Linked DNA regions of Homo sapiens. The protein of the gene in region 2 purifies or fractionates together with the protein of the main gene of each other region. This does not show direct contact. Each region holds a gene or a part of one and is shown on either strand. Other genes may lie near its edges. The genes, in order: ING3, EPC2 and MBTD1.

The links.
Region 1: the proteins of EPC2 (region 2) and ING3 purify together in Homo sapiens (affinity purification with mass spectrometry; 3 studies listed by BioGRID and IntAct, with this or other methods). This does not show direct contact.
Region 3: the proteins of EPC2 (region 2) and MBTD1 purify together in Homo sapiens (affinity purification with mass spectrometry; 3 studies listed by BioGRID and IntAct, with this or other methods). This does not show direct contact.

Annotation. Positions count from the first base shown.
Region 1 is NC_000007.14:120,974,646-120,977,747, reverse strand, and holds the end of ING3 (inhibitor of growth protein 3), read right to left. Parts: intron 3,021-3,102; coding exon 2,904-3,020; 3' UTR 532-2,903; downstream 1-531. UniProt on the Homo sapiens protein: Component of the NuA4 histone acetyltransferase (HAT) complex which is involved in transcriptional activation of select genes principally by acetylation of nucleosomal histones H4 and H2A.
Region 2 is NC_000002.12:148,780,684-148,784,445, reverse strand, and holds part of EPC2 (enhancer of polycomb homolog 2), read right to left. Parts: intron 2,803-3,762; coding exon 2,666-2,802; intron 850-2,665; coding exon 690-849; intron 1-689. UniProt on the Homo sapiens protein: May play a role in transcription or DNA repair.
Region 3 is NC_000017.11:51,176,769-51,180,055, forward strand, and holds the end of MBTD1 (MBT domain-containing protein 1), read right to left. Parts: 3' UTR 657-3,287; downstream 1-656. UniProt on the Homo sapiens protein: Chromatin reader component of the NuA4 histone acetyltransferase complex, a multiprotein complex involved in transcriptional activation of select genes principally by acetylation of nucleosomal histones H4 and H2A.

The DNA.
Region 1 (3,102 bases), on a different chromosome or scaffold from region 2:
ACTATTTCAGTAATCAATTTCCCTGCCTCCCAGTGTTCTCCCAGTGCTTTGTGTATCCATTACAGCATTCATCAAGATAACACATTTAACATGTCTGCCCCCACCAACTCCCCCCACACACACATATAATACCTTCATCTGTATATTCTCAGAATCTAGGTGCTTAGTATTTGTAAAGTTAAAGAATATTTTTAAGGGTCTTTTTTTCTCTTAAAACCCATCTGCTAAAAAATAAATGTATTTTTATCTGTGAGAGCTGAGGGGAAACCATTGCAATGTCTACACATTAAGGAGTATCTTATACCCCTTTATAACCCAAGTTTGTTAGACATTTATTTGCATAAGATTAAAATAATTAATTAGGTCAATAAGACCATTCCTAAAGTCTAAAGACAAAGGGCACTAATATTGCACAAACCTAAGATGGTTAAAAACCTAAAACGTGGAATTTGCTTTAAAGGAGAAGAGAACAAAAAAATATAAACTGCCCTTGAAAAGAATGATTGTATGCTTATCAAACACTCAGCCTCATTTTGGCATTTAATTAAGCCATTTATTGCTTCAAATGTGTCACCATGAACATTTTGATATACACTCCATAGCAGTAAGGCCTCAATTTTCACCACCTGTGAACTGTGAACCCACATTTGGATATTTTGTCCCAACTGTTACATGAGTTTTGTACAACAGAGATTTTGAATGTGTATTTTATAATACCAAAAATACTTACTATGCCCCTTGGTGTAAATGTCACAAAGAATATTAATAGTTGGCCACATTTTTGGGGGGTTGATGAGGTAGTTCCATGTTTGGCCCCATTATATATGACTCAGATATTAACAGGTTCTACCCATTACTAAATACCTGCACCAAATTTTGGTTTCTTTCTTTACACATGCTTCATAAAATATTCAGTGTTTGAGTTTAAAACTTGTCAAAGTGTTTTCTAAGTGATTTGGTAAGGAGTGGAATTCACACTGAAAGGGGATGTAGCAGCTGGATAACAGGATGTTCCTGACTCAGACAAAGAACTTTCTCTTCAAATAAGGCTGTACATAAGGCTTTTTCCTTTGACCATTTCTATAAAATGAATGAGTTTGGAATAGTCATAATATATAGAGGATGTAAATGATACATGTGAGCATTTCCAGGCAATATACTTTGATAAACGAATTGAATACTACATTATTTATCACTTCTTAAAGGGTTATAAAATCTCAAAATATTGAGTATCATGAAATCGTGATAATCATGATATTATGAAATGATGAGTACTCACAAATGAACCTAACTTGTTTAGGGAGCTGGTAGAGTTGTATAATCAGACTGTGGCAGCTCAGAATCATGGGATCTCAAAGGTGGAAGAGATCTTTGAAATCCCCTATCTACCTCACACCCTTTGGGTAGCACTGCATAGATTTTACACTGTTATCTGAATAAGTTCTAAGAAGCTCATAAGTGGTTTAATTAAAGCAGAAATCTGATGGACCCAGTAAGTTTCAATATAAAATATATATGATATATTAAGTATCTTAAAAGTTAAGGATTTTTCTATCGACCAGACTCAATATTATACTTTAAATAAAACCTCCACTATGCAAATTTATAATTTAAATAGCACCTTAGAATAAGATCTATTCTGCAGTCAGCATCACCCTGGTGTAGTAAGGCCCAGAGTGATACAAAATTTGAATTAACTGTCATATCAGTAAGTGGTAGAATCAAAAATAGCTCAATTTGGAGCTCCCGACCAGGGGGGTCTCTTTACTCTATTTGGCTACATTGCCTCCAGTCAAAACACCCATAACCATTATTTTCGTTTTAACTGCTATACTTACACTTCTTTCATGTCTTTTAGACTGAAGGAAAAGCCAGATGATGTTCTTAAAAAAATACATTGGCATTTCAAATTTACATTAAAAATGTCTTTCCTGTATTCTTATATCACAAACTCTAAACATCATTAAAGACATCACAGATTACACAGTATTCTGTGTCCTGGGTCTCTGATTCTTTTTAGATTATGAAAGTTGAAAGTTAATTGGAATTCAGAAATTTTCATTATTAAGTATGTAAAGTATAAATACAAGTAATTTTTTAAAAACTTTATTTTAACACCTAATACAATTGCAATTTTAAGGATTACTTGCACAAAAAAATAAACACATTTGGTATAAAAATGTATCACTTTAACGCCCTTTCCCCTTCAGTCCCCCGCCCCCTCCCTCATGAACTGCACTCTATCTGGATGCAGAAACATAGAAAGACTAATGGCACAAATTACTTTTTACCTACAGGAGTTTCTGTTTATGTACCCAGGTACTCTAGAGGATACCAGCCCACATTATCACATGAACCATTTCCTTCAGCCTGCTGAATTAGTTTCACAAAGAAACAAAGCTTATTATAAAGGCATTTTAAAAACCATTATCTTAAATTCTTTTTAGAAGCACTGACTTTTTTTTTTTTTTGCAACCATTTATATACAGTGTTACATAACAGCTCTGGAGTACAGTACATGCAGCAGAATATACCTGTTGAATATAAAATACTTTCCTTAAAATCTTCATCATTGGAATTCCTTGAAGTCTAAATCATAGAATGCCCATTACTTTGAGAAAATGGTTGAGGAGTACAAATGTCTGCATATGTTGGCCACTGAAATAATCCAAGGCTAACTGGAATAATATTCATAGCACACCAGGAGTGCATAAATAATTTACTTACATTATTAAAATACAACCCATAAAATTCAAGTTCAAGATCTTATAGGATTGTCTATGTAAATCCTTTAAGTGGTTGCCTGGAAATGCATTGTTTCTTCTTTCTCTTCTCTTCTTTTTAAAGTCCTATATAAAATCTTCAGCTGAAGTTTATTTCTTCATCAAACAAAAGGACCACCTTTATTTGTGTCTGCTGCCTCTTCTCTTCATTGCAGCAGTGCACTGTGGACAGTACCATTTGCCTTTTGGTGCCTCTGTCAATCCAACGCAGCCATAATGGAACCATTCTATAGGGCACTAGAAAGCAAAATTGCAAAAAACAAGTTTTCAGTACTTCTGAAGACAAGAGAGTATATTAAAATATGCTCAGGAGACTGAA
Region 2 (3,762 bases):
TTGCAAAGTATTCTGCTGCCTGTATCTGGCAACTGTGGAGTTAAGTATAACAGGACAGATGGAAATGACAGTTGGGTTTCCCTAAGTATGTACACATGCATGAATATTAGTAAAAATGGACAATCAGGTTCATGGGTATATATAAAAGCAACTGGAAAATCCTAGGGTCTGAGAGGTAGTTGAAGGATGATAGGAATAACAAGTCTTTGCGGACTCAGGGTACTAAGAAGCACACAGGGTTTCACAGCAATACTCTATCTAAAGAGCGGGAGCCAGAGTTAGTATGCCTATGAGCAGTATGTAAGAGTGGGAAGGCAAATCTGATTTCCAATTTATTACTGTCCTGGATTATCTTTCACTTTTTTATCAATGCATGCATGATTCAATGGGGATGGTTAGCTCAACAGATTTCCTAAGATGTGAGGCAACTGACAGTATGTGAATGAAACCAGGAAGGGTAGAATGTTACACAGGTATGTATTCAATGGATGAGGGAGAAAACAAGGAGTAGATTCTACATGAATTCTAGAAAACATCTACCTATTTCCCACTATCTTTCCAAAGAAATCCTAAAGAGTCCTGATTGACTTATACACATTTTCCCCTTGGATAAAAAAACAAAAAACAAACTCCCAATCACTGAGTTACAACTTCAAGAAAGTAGGTACCATGTGAAACCCCAGCTGTACCTGAAGGCTGGACAACACCGTTTATGTTGTTGTGGCCAGTGTTCTGTTCCTTGGCTACCTCACTGCGACTTGGAACAGGTGCACTGACCACTGCAGATGCAGCAAAGTGGGCGCTGGCTGAGTCAAGTGTTTTAGACATACAGTCAGAGGTGCTTGAGCCCTATAAAATGAACAAAGTTAAACACTCTAATTTTTAGATGTGATTTTATGAACATATTAAGGGATGGGGCAAACCCAAGAGGCTGTTGCCTTTCTAACCTTGAACAATTACAAGTGTTTAGATTAAGCGATCTACGATTCCATAGATGATTTTTGGCATATGAAGCAGGGAAACGAACAAAAACTGAGAAGTTATTTCTGAGAAAGAACTAGAGATTAAATAACCCAAGGCTTTAATGTTCTATTAATTTTTCCAAAAAATATTAATGAATGGTTTTAAAAATGCTTGAAAAACTACATACTTGGATAAAATGAAATCATAGAGATGATTAATAGACATTTTTGTCACAATGTGAAAACCTATCTTGGCCTAACCCTGAAATAGGATGAAAATACTTTTGGTTGGTTAACCAGGAGACTCAGAAAAAGCAAACAAAGTAAAGTTAAATGGCCATTCCTCCTTGATTCTGTATAAAACTGGTTACTAAGTCCTAGTTACTAAGTCCTACAGCCCTAGTCCTTGAGCAAGTCCCAGATCCACCTGGATGTCACAGGAGTGTTGCATTCCAGGGTCACTGAGATTTTCATGTTACTGGAGTCAGGATCTTTAAAGTCAGTGTACTGACCCTTTGAGAATGGGCTGAACTACAATGGGCAGATTCTAGCCTGAGAGCTCACAAAATATAACCAAAATTGAGTAAACCTCAGTTATTACTTTAGAAGTGGTTTTAGAATTATAGAGCAATAAAACTTAAGACCTAAAACGCAAGGTTTATGTTTTTCAGGTGGTTCAAATTTGAAATAGATTTCTTAGTTTTGCTTTTAGTGGCTTAAAAATTTATTATCATATAGTTCTGCAGGCCAGAAGTCCACAATGAAGCTTATGGGGTTAAAATCAAGGTGTTGGCAGGGCTGGTTCCTTCTGGCAATTATGGTTTTATGAAGTATTTTTATTCTTATCTCTAGCATCTTTATTTAGTGGTGTCTACAAACAACTTCCCCTAGTGGCAATTTTCTTCTTCATTTTAAAAAATTTTAATTAATTTTTTTTGTTTTTTTTGGAGACATAGTCTGACTCTATCACCCAGGCTGGAGTGCAGTGGTGCGATCTTAGCTCACTGAAACCTCCACCTTCAGGGTTCAAGCGATTCTCATGCCTCAGCCTCCCAAGTAGCTGGGCTTACAGGTATTCACCACCATGCCCAGTTAGTTTTTGTATTTTTAGTAGAGACAGGGTTTTGCCACGTTGACCAGGCTGATCTTGAACTCCTGACCCCAAGTGATCTGCCCGCCTCGGCCGCCCAAAGTGCTGGGATTACAGGCATGAGCCACCGTGCCTGGTTGCAATTTTCTTCAACAGGGAAATGTGATTCACAATGGCAAGGGGTTATGCTGTTGATGTATTGCACAATTCAACTGAATTACTGCCCAGCTCATGGAGCACATCCACATGCACTTAAACACATAGTTTAGGAAGTGGTTAGGAAAGTTTTATCTTTCAAAAAAATCTTTGGGGGAGTGGAGGTGGAGAATGATTCTTACAACTACATATATAATTACTTCTATAAATTCTCAACAACCCTTCAAAAAATTTAAAATACCATATTTGGCTCCAGCACTCTTCTCAAAATATTAAGAGATTAGTTTATAAGCTAGTCACTTAAAATTACGTACATTAACTGAAAAGAAATTCAGGTTACAGACCCCAAATCAAGAGTGGCAAAACCAAGATTATCTTCTGTGACTTGACTAAAATGGAATAAAACTACATAATGATGAAAGAAACAAACGTAACTATGACGAAAAGAGCAGTTTACCTGTGCTTTTGGATGTGTCTGTTGCGAGGAATGCTGAGATTGCTGTTTCTGCTGAAGCTGGGCAAGTTGCTGCCTTTGCATCTGAACTAACTGCTGCTGATGTGTCTGAAACTGCTCTTCTGTGATACCCCCTGTTACTGGTAAAGAACATGAATTTTGGAAATGAGTACGTTTTAAAAGATTTTTAATAACACAAGCAGAATATGATATAAACTTATTCCACAATTAAGATGAAAGCAATTACAAATTACAATATGGAATATCAGAAAATAATCTAATGAAAATGGCAAATCTTCCAGCAAGTGTGGTGTATGCTTGTATTTATAATCTCCATCACATGCTAAGAAAAGTGCCTAAATGTAGTTTTTGTTGAATAATACAGTTCTAACATGAGTATTTTACCATTTATTCAGACTTAGTATCTTTGAGACCACTCTTAATTCTCTATATTATGGAGAGCATGTAATGAAAAAAACTTTGATTTATTCATGTTAATAATAATGATGACTAAGTTATAGCCTTAATAAGAAAGCAGGACCATCTGCAAGACTATAAATGATTTTTACTGCTGGTTTCATAAAACACTGAAGTGAAAATACTTTATTCTCTGATTACAAATCAAAGTAGAGAACAACATTCATCTAACATAACCACAAACCATAGTTTAAGCCAATAGATTCAACGCCTAAAGTAAATCCATCTATAAAAATATGGGCTAGAAATCAGACAAGTATTCAGAAAACTGAAGATACTATGTATCCTCAGATGTAGTAAATTCTACTGCGACCAACTGTGTTAAAAGTGTGTTTCAAATGAAAACAAGACATCTACAACTTTTGTTGAAAAAATCAGCTAAGTTACAGAAACCACTTTTCTCAAAGAAATGTAAACAAAATTTCATTCGTTGATATTTAAGTAGATCACTGATAAGTTGATTTAGAGAACACAAAGACATTTCCATGGAAGTCATTATAATATTAGAGTCAAGAAAAATTAAATGACATGATAATACATGTACTTTAGAGTAATTTTGCTCTGTTTTCTTTATTGCTTGCTATCCTTTCTCCCAATGATTTCAATCAACAAATATTTACTAT
Region 3 (3,287 bases), on a different chromosome or scaffold from region 2:
ACTTTGCTGCTGAGGTTAATGGAGTTAAAAAAAAGTCTCCTACTAGCCAGGCATGGTGGCTCACGCGGTCAGGAGATCAAGACCATCCTGGCTAACACGGTGAAACCCCGTCTCGACTAAAAATACAAAAAATTAGCCGGTCGTGGTGGCAGGCGCCTGTAGTCCCAGCTACTCAGGAGGCTGAGGCAGGAGAATGGTGTGAACATGGGAGGTGGAGGTTGCAGTGAGCCGATATAGCGCCACTGCACTCCAGCCTGGGTGACAGAGCAAGACTCCATCTCAAAAAAAAAAAAAAAAAAAAAAGTCTCCTACTAAGCATGCCAACCCCAAAACACGATGTTCTAGCTAAGATGATTTAATTTCCCCATAAAGGTCCCTATTCACCTTGGCTCCTGCTGTGGTTTTTGCCCTTTCCCTCCCTGCCCATGAAATCCCACCTCCAATGCAACCTCATCCATATGTCTAACCATACTACTCTTGGCTCCCTTGGCAGCTAGTGGAAAATTCTTCCTTACAGCACTCATGTGCCTGCTACCCCTTGTAAGAGGAAGGGGCTGATCCAACTTTCATAGGGGTCTCTGACTGCTTATAGAGGGCACGCAATAGAAAAGCAACCCCCCAAACCAAAGCATATTAAAGAACTGCTCAAATCCAGCTTAACTTTAACATTTTATTTTGTGTAAAAAAGGGCAAATTTAGTGAATTATTTTCATCTTGTACACAAAGTTATAATTTTAATGCTTTTCACATCCATGCTGAAAATTTGCAATTTGGTAAAAATGAAAGGAACATAAATTTTTCCAAAGGAATTTTTCACGCCATTATATATACACTTCATGAGAAAGTTTCAAACACTTTCTCAATGATCACGAGTTACCAAGAAAATAAAAGATTAAATTTGTACAGATATTGATCTATATATCAAATACATACAGAAATGATGTAAAAACCTTATGCAGTTTACTTTGACCTCTGTCCTCAAAAGATTTGCCCAGGGACAGATGCTTTTCTTTTGTATAAATGACTGTGGCTTTATTTAAAATATGAAAATCAAAGGAAGAAACCCAGTTTAATCACAGTATTTTTAAAATCCCTTCCCAATATTAAAGGATCATTACCAATATATAGCACCATAATACAAATATTGATGGGAGAGGGTATTCACATCACGCAAAATTAATAATAATAATAAAAACAAACAAACACTGAAAACCCGTGTTAGTATCGTAGAATAAGAAGTTGATAACAGCTTTAGCTTTCCTCATACACGGCAAGGAAAAGGTTAAAGAGTTTAAACTACCAAAAGTCCCCAAATAAATCCTAACAGGAAAAACAAAACAAAACAAAAACAAACCCAAGGTCAGCAGTACATTTTGAACCGTAAAAGAGAATGGGGCGATTGAGTTGTACAACTGGAGTTATGGCTAAGACATAAATCTCCTCTGCATTAATTATTTTTCGGTTCGTCGGCAGTAGGAGTTAGTGTGTGAACAATGAAAGAGGGCTTTAGGTTGTGTTCAGACTGTAGAAAAGTCCTTACCAACCTTCAACTGTTGGTCACGGGATCAAGACAAGAAACACTTCATGAATTAGGAAATTCTAAAACACTCAGAGCCTGGGTTTGCTATAGAATTGGAAGCTTATGAAACCTGGGTATAAATGAGCATTTCATAGATTACCAGGACTGACTAGCTCCAAATCCTCTCTCTCCTGGTTTAGTCAGTTCCCCATGGAGCTCCTAAATCCAAGGTACTGGCAGAGTACACTACACAACAGGCTTCTTGTGCCTGTGCTGTGGAATTAGTCCTGGGTTTAATTCAGTGAGCCTGAGAATAAAGACTGCTCTAACCCTTGCTTTGGAATACTTCTAGGCTTTAAGTTTACAAGAAGATTTTTCAAAGTTAAAGATATGGGAAGTGTGAGGATGTCACATTTACAGTAGGTCCCTCTCAGCAATGTTAAGATAAATATCCAGTAATTTAACAGCTGAATTCACATATATTTGACACATGAGAATCAACTTGCGTTGATGTGATCTGCATTTATGCCCCTAAAGAGTCAGTATTAAGAAATGGTGACATGCGATTCCATACATTCTTACACTATAAAGTAACAAATTTTACTTCCAGTAGCTATTATAAAACCTTATGTTATTAACCCCTCTTGCATAGAATGAGGTAAACCTGTGCGTATTACCAATGCTATTATTCCCAAAAGTAGAGCAATATTTTAGAAAATAAATTGCTGGTTTTTTTTAACGTTCTATGCATTTTAAAATTCAAACAAAAGTCTTACCTAAAATGGTCTCCTGGGGCTTTCCATTAACATTTTTTAAAGCATTCCATAGGCTGAAGGACTGTAGAGGTTAATCATTTTGATTAATTTCTAATTAGCCCTACCTATATTCCAGAGGAGATGGTCAATATTACCACTCTGAAGAGGCCAGGCTAAGACCCAGAAGCACTTCTAGAACAGATGCAATTAATTCCTGAGAGTTTAGTTTATGAACCTCACTGGTAAACGCTAGAGCGCTCTCATTCAGTCACAACTCAGTAGAAAGTTAGAAAATGCAGAGAGCAAACCTTTCACCAGTTTACCCTTGTATCCTTTTTTTTTTTTTAAAAGGAAGTCATATGAATTTTAAAACAGGGAATGTTCAAAATGGTCCAAATCGGTTATTATTAAAATAAATCCTGAATACAATTAAAGACAATTTTATATATATATATATATATATATATATATATATATATATATATATATATATATGGAATTTTAAGAAAATTAAATTCTCTTTCAAATTAGTTTTCTACCAAATCCAGGATAGATAAAAGCAGAGCTGGAATGATTTTGAAATCTAAACTTATTTTGGCTTTGAATAACTTTCAATTCGATTCTCCTAATACAGAACATCTGTTTTTGGTTGTGGTTATACGAAGCTGTTATTTCACAGATAGAGGGAAATGGCAGAGAACTGATCAGAATCCCTTTCGTGGGGTATTTTTTTTAGAAAGGAAAATAAACTAAGGACAACATTACATTTTCCCCAACCCCTCAATGTGTAGACTGAGATCCTGAATATCTTGTCAACCATTCCAGTTTAACACTTTAGTGTTAGGATAATTCTAATCATTTTTTTAATTAAAAGAGAACATATAAAAGTATCCAGAGTTCTTCCAGTTTCATACAGAACTCCAAATAAATTTTCACAGAATGAAAAATATTTCTGTACAAACATTTAAAATGGGCTGCAATAAAATGCCAACAAGAGAAATAATGACCCTTCC